Regions from separate parts of the Homo sapiens genome. Here region 2 is linked to region 1. The links come from fine-mapping of genetic effects on gene expression. A gene starts in region 1. The other region holds a variant in brackets. All regions are shown on one strand. Distances are from middle to middle. Region 1 holds the start of REX1BD (required for excision 1-B domain containing). Region 2 overlaps KXD1 (KxDL motif containing 1).

Region 1 (2,899 bases):
GGGGACTTTCACAGAAGACCCCTGTGACTCAGTGTTTTGAGTTCTTAACCAATCGAGTGAAGGATTCAGAATTAACCACTCCAGGCCGGGCGCGGTGGCTCACGCCTGTAATCCCAGCACTTTGGGAGGCCGAGGCGGGCGGATCACGAGGTCAGGAGATTGAGACCATCCTGGCTAACCCGGTGAAACCCTGCCTCTACTAAAAATACAAAAAATTGGCCGGGTGTGGTGGCGGGCGCCTGTGGTCCCAGCTACTGGGGAGGCTGAGGCAGGAGAATGGCGTGAACCCGGGAGGCAGAGCTTGAAGTGAGCCGAGATCGTGCCATTGCACTGCAGCCTGGGCGACAGAGCGAGACTCTGTCTCACTAAAAAAAAAAAAAAAAAAAAACAAAAAAAAAAAACACTCCAGAGGAGGATTGAAAAAAGAACCACTCTCAATGGACAAAAAGAAAGGGGAGGGGTAACATAGGGATATGAGCCCTAGCCACCGGAGCCAGCAACGGCAACCCTTCCGGGTCCCCTTCCAGCATGTGGAAGCTTTCCTTTCGCTTTGTTCAATAAACTGCCCTGCTGCTCACTCTCCTGGTCCGTGGACTCTTTTTGATCTGTAACACACACCGCGAAGGTCCACAGCTTCATTCTTCAAAGTTAGCGAGACCACGAACCCATCGGCAAGAAAAACTCCCAACTCACTAACAGCCTAGTCCCTTCCCCCTTAAAGGCTGGTGTCTGTCACCCCATACCTGAGCTGGTCCCTCTTCACTAAGTCAGGCTACCAGCATCTTCCTGCTCCTCCGGCTGGGCCCCTGGAGGAGGAAGCTTTCCAAAGCTCTGTCTAGCCCATGTATCCCTCCAGCAGGAAGCTCCAAGGCCTCCTCTGTACTTTGAGGTCGTTCTGGCCCCTGCTATGCTCCAGGCTCAGGGCTATTACACAAGACACCCAATTCAACTCGGTGGGCTGTTGACACCGTCCCTGTCACTGAATCTTGTCTTCACCCCTGTGATTCTCTGAAGAGCCAGTGAATCTCTGTTAATGTTGGTGGAGTTCCAGCCACTGCACTTTTTTTGAGGCAGACTCACTGTGGCTCCGGCTGGAGTGCAGTGGCATGGTCATAGCTCATGGCAGCCCCCAACTCCCGGGCTCATGTAATCCTCCCACCTCAGCCTCCCGAGTAGCTGGGACTGGAGGCGGGAGCCACCATGTCGGGCTAATTGGTTTTTCTGTAGAGATCGGGCCTCCCTAGGTTGCCCAGGCTTACTTAACACTCTTGAACGTCAAAACCCACGCTCAGTACCCGCTTCAAGTGGAAGTCGGTGTTGAGATACAAGCATAGGAACGAACTCAAGGCTAACAGCTGTTCTGTATTCAGAGCCGCACAATCAAGGAAAAACACGATCGGAGGCGGGCCCTGGACGGGAACAAGAAGGGTGGGCTTGACTGGGCGGCCCGCGGTCTTGGTTCCCCTTTCTTCCTTCTGGCTGGCCGGCCGCAGGGTAGGGGGTCCGTGGACCTCCCGGCCTGTAGGGGGCGTCGGGCGCAGCGGAAGGGCCTGCTCCGGAGCCTGGCCAGGGCTGCGCAGTCATGATCACCGAGACCGCGGCGGAGCCTACGGTCCCTGCAGTGCCTGCTGCTGAGGAGGCCACCGAAGCTCGGGGACGCGAGGAGCCGGCGTGGCCCTGGGTGAGCCCAGGCCCAAGCGGGAACGGGCGCGGGGCGGGCGGCGCAGACCCAGGGGCGCGGGCTTCATGCCCCAGCCGTGCCCCCTGTCCCGCAGAAAGACGCCCCGATCCGGACGCTGGTGCAGCGCATCCACCAGCTGCAGGCTGAGCGCGCGCAGGGCTTCCGCCGACTGGAGGAGTGAGTGGGGGCGCGGAGGGGCTCAGGGTTCGGTCCCCCGCCCGCTCCGGGCGTGGGCGTGTTCTCGGCGGGCGTGCCTGGAGGAGGAGCTGGGTCCTTGTGTGGCTGCAGAGTCAGATGGGGCGGGGATTTCGGGGCACCGGGTCCTCACCTTCACGAAAAAGGCCCCACAGCACGTCCCCACTACCCGACGACTCACTCTTCGTGGCTTCTCTCTCCTCCCCAAGAGCAGGGGTGGGCCTGTCTCGCGTTCCCCTGCGGGAGTCAGGAAGCGTCCTTCCTACCTACCAGTCCTCCCCTCTGGTGTCTGGGGACACTTCCTGGGGGCCTTTCAGGTGGTTGGCGCCGGTGCAGGGCCTGAGAGCCTGGGGGCGCGGCCTCAGGGTCCCCACATGCCGCAGAGGCCACCGCCAGTACCTGCGCAGCGGCCCTGACTACGACTTCGCGCGCTACCGGAGCACAGTGCACGGGGTGACCCAGGCCTTCGCCGCCGCCTCGCGGGAGGTGCTGGCGGTGGAAGCAGAGCTGGGCGGGCCTCGCAGGCAGCCGCTGCTCGCCGGCCACGTGCGCAGCCTGCAGGAGCTGGAGCAGACGCGGCTGGGCACGGTGAGGCCACCACCCCTTCCCCGCCGTGTCTCTAGGACCCTGGCCGGCTCCTCTCATGACGCACCCCTGGTTGGGGGGTGGTCCCAGTATCCCATACACAGACCTCACCCCTTCCTGTCCCACCCCAATCCTCTATTAAGGCTTCACTTGGGGATTCTCGGACCTTGCCCTCTGCTGTTCATCCCCAATTTTTTTCCCAAGTTTTGTCCTTATTCCCAGAGCACTCCCGCTTTCTCCCAGCTCCGCCTAAATGCTATTCCAAGATGCCCAGATCCCGCCCCAACAATGCTCCACCCACTCTGGTTGTTCCGCGTCTAGGGTCCCACCCTCAACCTCCCGTAGATACAGGCGAGGGGGGTCCCAGGCCACGCCTCCTCCGTATTATTCCTCCATCACAGCTTTAGTTCTTTGCCTATTTCTCTCTTGCGATCCGCC
Region 2 (2,899 bases), 22 kb before region 1:
GAAACGGGACCTGGACAGCATCTTCCGCCGTATCAGGTGGGTGCTCAGTGCCACCCCAGCCCAGCTGACCTCTGCCTCCACCTCCCCATCTGAGCCTCAGTTTCCTTCACATACCAGGGTAAAGGGAGATTTCTGTTTGTTTTACAAGGCTTCACTGCGCACTTAAGTGTCTGGGACAATTCCAACCCTGGGATAAAATCTTGACGTAAGTTTATTTACTGATTGATTAATTGATCGAGACAGAGTTTTTTTTTTTTTTTTGGAGACGGAGTCTCGCTCTGTTGCCCAGGCTGGAGTGCAGTGGCGCGACCTCAGCTCACTGCAAGCTCCGCTTCCCGGGCTCACGCCATTCTCCTGCCTCAGTCTCCGGAGTAGCTGGGATTACAGGTGCCTACCACCACGCCTGGAGAATTTTTTGTATTTTTAGTGGAGATGGGGTTTCACCGTGTTAGTAGTCAGGATGGTCTCGATCTCCTGACCTCGTGATCCAGCCGCCTTGGCCTCCCAAAGTGCTGGGATTACAGGCGTGAGCCACTGCGCCCGGCCGAGACAGAGTCTTGATCTGTGGCCCTGGCTGGAGTGCAGTGGCGTGATCTTGGCTCACTGCAACCTCTGCCTCCTGGATTCAAGCGATTCTTGTGCTTCAGCCTTCTGAGTAGCTGGGTCTACAGACATACTGTACCACACCCAGCTAATTTTTGTTGTTGTTGTTTTATTTTTGAGGTGGAGTCTTGCTCTGTCGCCCAGGCTGGAGTGCAGTGGTGCAATGTCAGCTCACTGCAACCTCCGCCTCCCAGGTTCAAGCGATTCTCCTGCTTCAGCCTCCTGAGTAGCTGGGACTACAGGCGCATGCTGCCACGCCCAGCTGATTTTTTGTATTTTAGTAGAGACGAGATTTCACCGTGTTGCCCAGGCTAGTCTCAAACTCCTGAGCTCCAGCACTCTGCCTGCCTCGGCCTCCTAAAGTGTTGGGATTACAGGTGTGAGCCTAATTTTTGTATTTTGTGTAATTTTTGTATTTTTTTAGTAGAGACAGGGTTTCCCCATGTTGGCCAGGCTCATCTCGAAGTCCTGGCCTCAGATGATCCATCCACCTCGACCTCCCAAAGTGCTGGGATTATAGGCATGAGCCATCATGCCCAGCCTTGCAGTTTATTTATTCTTAAAAAATGTAACACAGTGCGGCTGGGCGAGGTGGCCCATGCCTGTAATCCCAGCACTTTGGGAGGCCGAGGCAGGCGGATCACGAGGTCAGGAGATCAAGACCATCCCGGCTAACATGGTGAAACCCCGTCTCTACTAAAAATACAAAAAATACTAAAAATACAAAAAATTAGCTGGGCGTGGTGGTGGGCGTCTGTATTGCCAGCTACTCGGGAGGCTGAGGCAGGAGAATGGCATGAACCCAGGAGGTGAGC[C/T]GAGATCGCGCCACTGCACTCAAGCCTGGGCGACAGAGCGAGACTCCGTCTCAAAAAAAAAAAAAAAGTAACATAGTGCTAGACACATAATGAAAAGGCAGGAATGGCTGGGCACAGTGGCTCATGCCTGTAATCCCAGCAGTTAGGGAGGCTGACGCAGGCAGATCACCTGAGGTCAGAAGTTTGAGACCAGCCTGGCCAACATGATGAAATCCCGTCTCTACTAAAAATACAAAAAAATCAGCTGAGCATGGTGGCACGTGCCTGTAATCCCAGCTACTTGGGAGGCTGAGGGAGGACAATCATGTGAATCCGGAAGGTGGAGGTTGCAGTGAGCCAGGATGGCACCACTGCACTCCACCCTGGGCGACAGAGTGAGATTCTGTCTCAAAAAAAAAAAAAAAATTTATCAGAGAAGAGGCCACATGTAAGAAGCAGCCTCGCAGGGGGAGCCCCCAGCCAGTGCCTAGGCTCAGAGCACCCAGAGTCTAACTAGTTGGGGGTTGGTGCCTACCTTGGGGCTGGAGGCCGGCTGGTGGGCGACTGTCAGGGCCGTGGCTGCTGGGCCGAGCACCTAGAGAGAGTGAAGATGTGAGGTGATGAACAGTGTGGGGGTTCTCACTCCCGTCTCCCCTTGCCCTCAGCTGGCAGCAGGGGCTTGTGGCCAGCACCAGGCCCAGCCTACCTGCTCAGCAGGTTAAGCCCTGTGTGCCTTCTCTCCCCTGCAGGACGCTGAAAGGGAAACTGGCCAGGCAGCACCCAGAGGCCTTCAGCCGTAAGTGTCACGCAGGGTTCCTGCTCCCGAGCACGTCAGCACTCTCCACCCAGGGCAGGCTTCTGGAAGGCCACCTTGGGGCCTGATACTGAGACCAGGCTGTAATGGGCAGTGGGTCTGGGGAAACCTGGGGTGGGGGCAGGGTCAGGGTGCTGGCCTGGTCCTGTCAGCAGCTGGCAGAGTGGGCACTAGGACGGGAGTCCGTGCCCCGTGGGGAGGCCGCACAGGAGAATGTGGATAAGCAGCATGACAATCCTTATCCCTGTGTGCATTATGAGCCATCTCAGAACAGAGCACGGGCTCATGTGACACCAGCCCCGACATCGTCTCGCCTTCCCTGAGCCCCAGCTTCGAGGATCTGTCCCATGTCCAGCTGTTACCCACAGTCACCCATGGGGTGGGGACTGTGAGTATCACCGTTTCATGGAGAGGGAAACAGAGGCCCAGAGGGGCAGGACTTGAGTTCGCATCTGTCTGGCTAGAGAGCTCGCGTGTTCTCTGGGGTACCATTCCATGTTGCCACCACCTTAAAGGGCTCTGCAGGCTGAGCCTGGGTTCACACCATCTGTTGAAAAGGCCGACAGCTCTCCATCCCAGGGCCTCCAACAGCAGTTTACAGAGCAGGGAGCTGGGCTGAGGGGAGGTCATATACCTAGCCCAGGTAGTGCAGTGAGCCAGGTTCGCCCTCAGGGCTCCTGTAGGCCTA

The links.
Region 2: its variant is fine-mapped to the expression of REX1BD in whole blood (INTERVAL, PIP 0.97).

Annotation. Positions count from the first base shown.
Region 1 is chr19:18,587,220-18,590,118 of GRCh38, forward strand. It overlaps REX1BD (required for excision 1-B domain containing), which reads left to right and starts at 1,579. Exons shown (of 5, transcript NM_001100418.2): 1 at 1,579-1,681; 2 at 1,776-1,858; 3 at 2,194-2,464. The coding sequence starts at 1,583. RefSeq lists a silencer at 1,407-1,926.
Region 2 is chr19:18,564,986-18,567,884 of GRCh38, forward strand. It overlaps KXD1 (KxDL motif containing 1), which reads left to right. Exons shown (of 5, transcript NM_024069.4): 3 at 1-36; 4 at 2,147-2,193. It also overlaps a transcript of UBA52 not described here. Among named protein-coding and RNA genes, the nearest start is that of UBA52, 5.4 kb to the right of the region's middle. The variant C/T (reference allele first, on the strand shown) is at 1,419.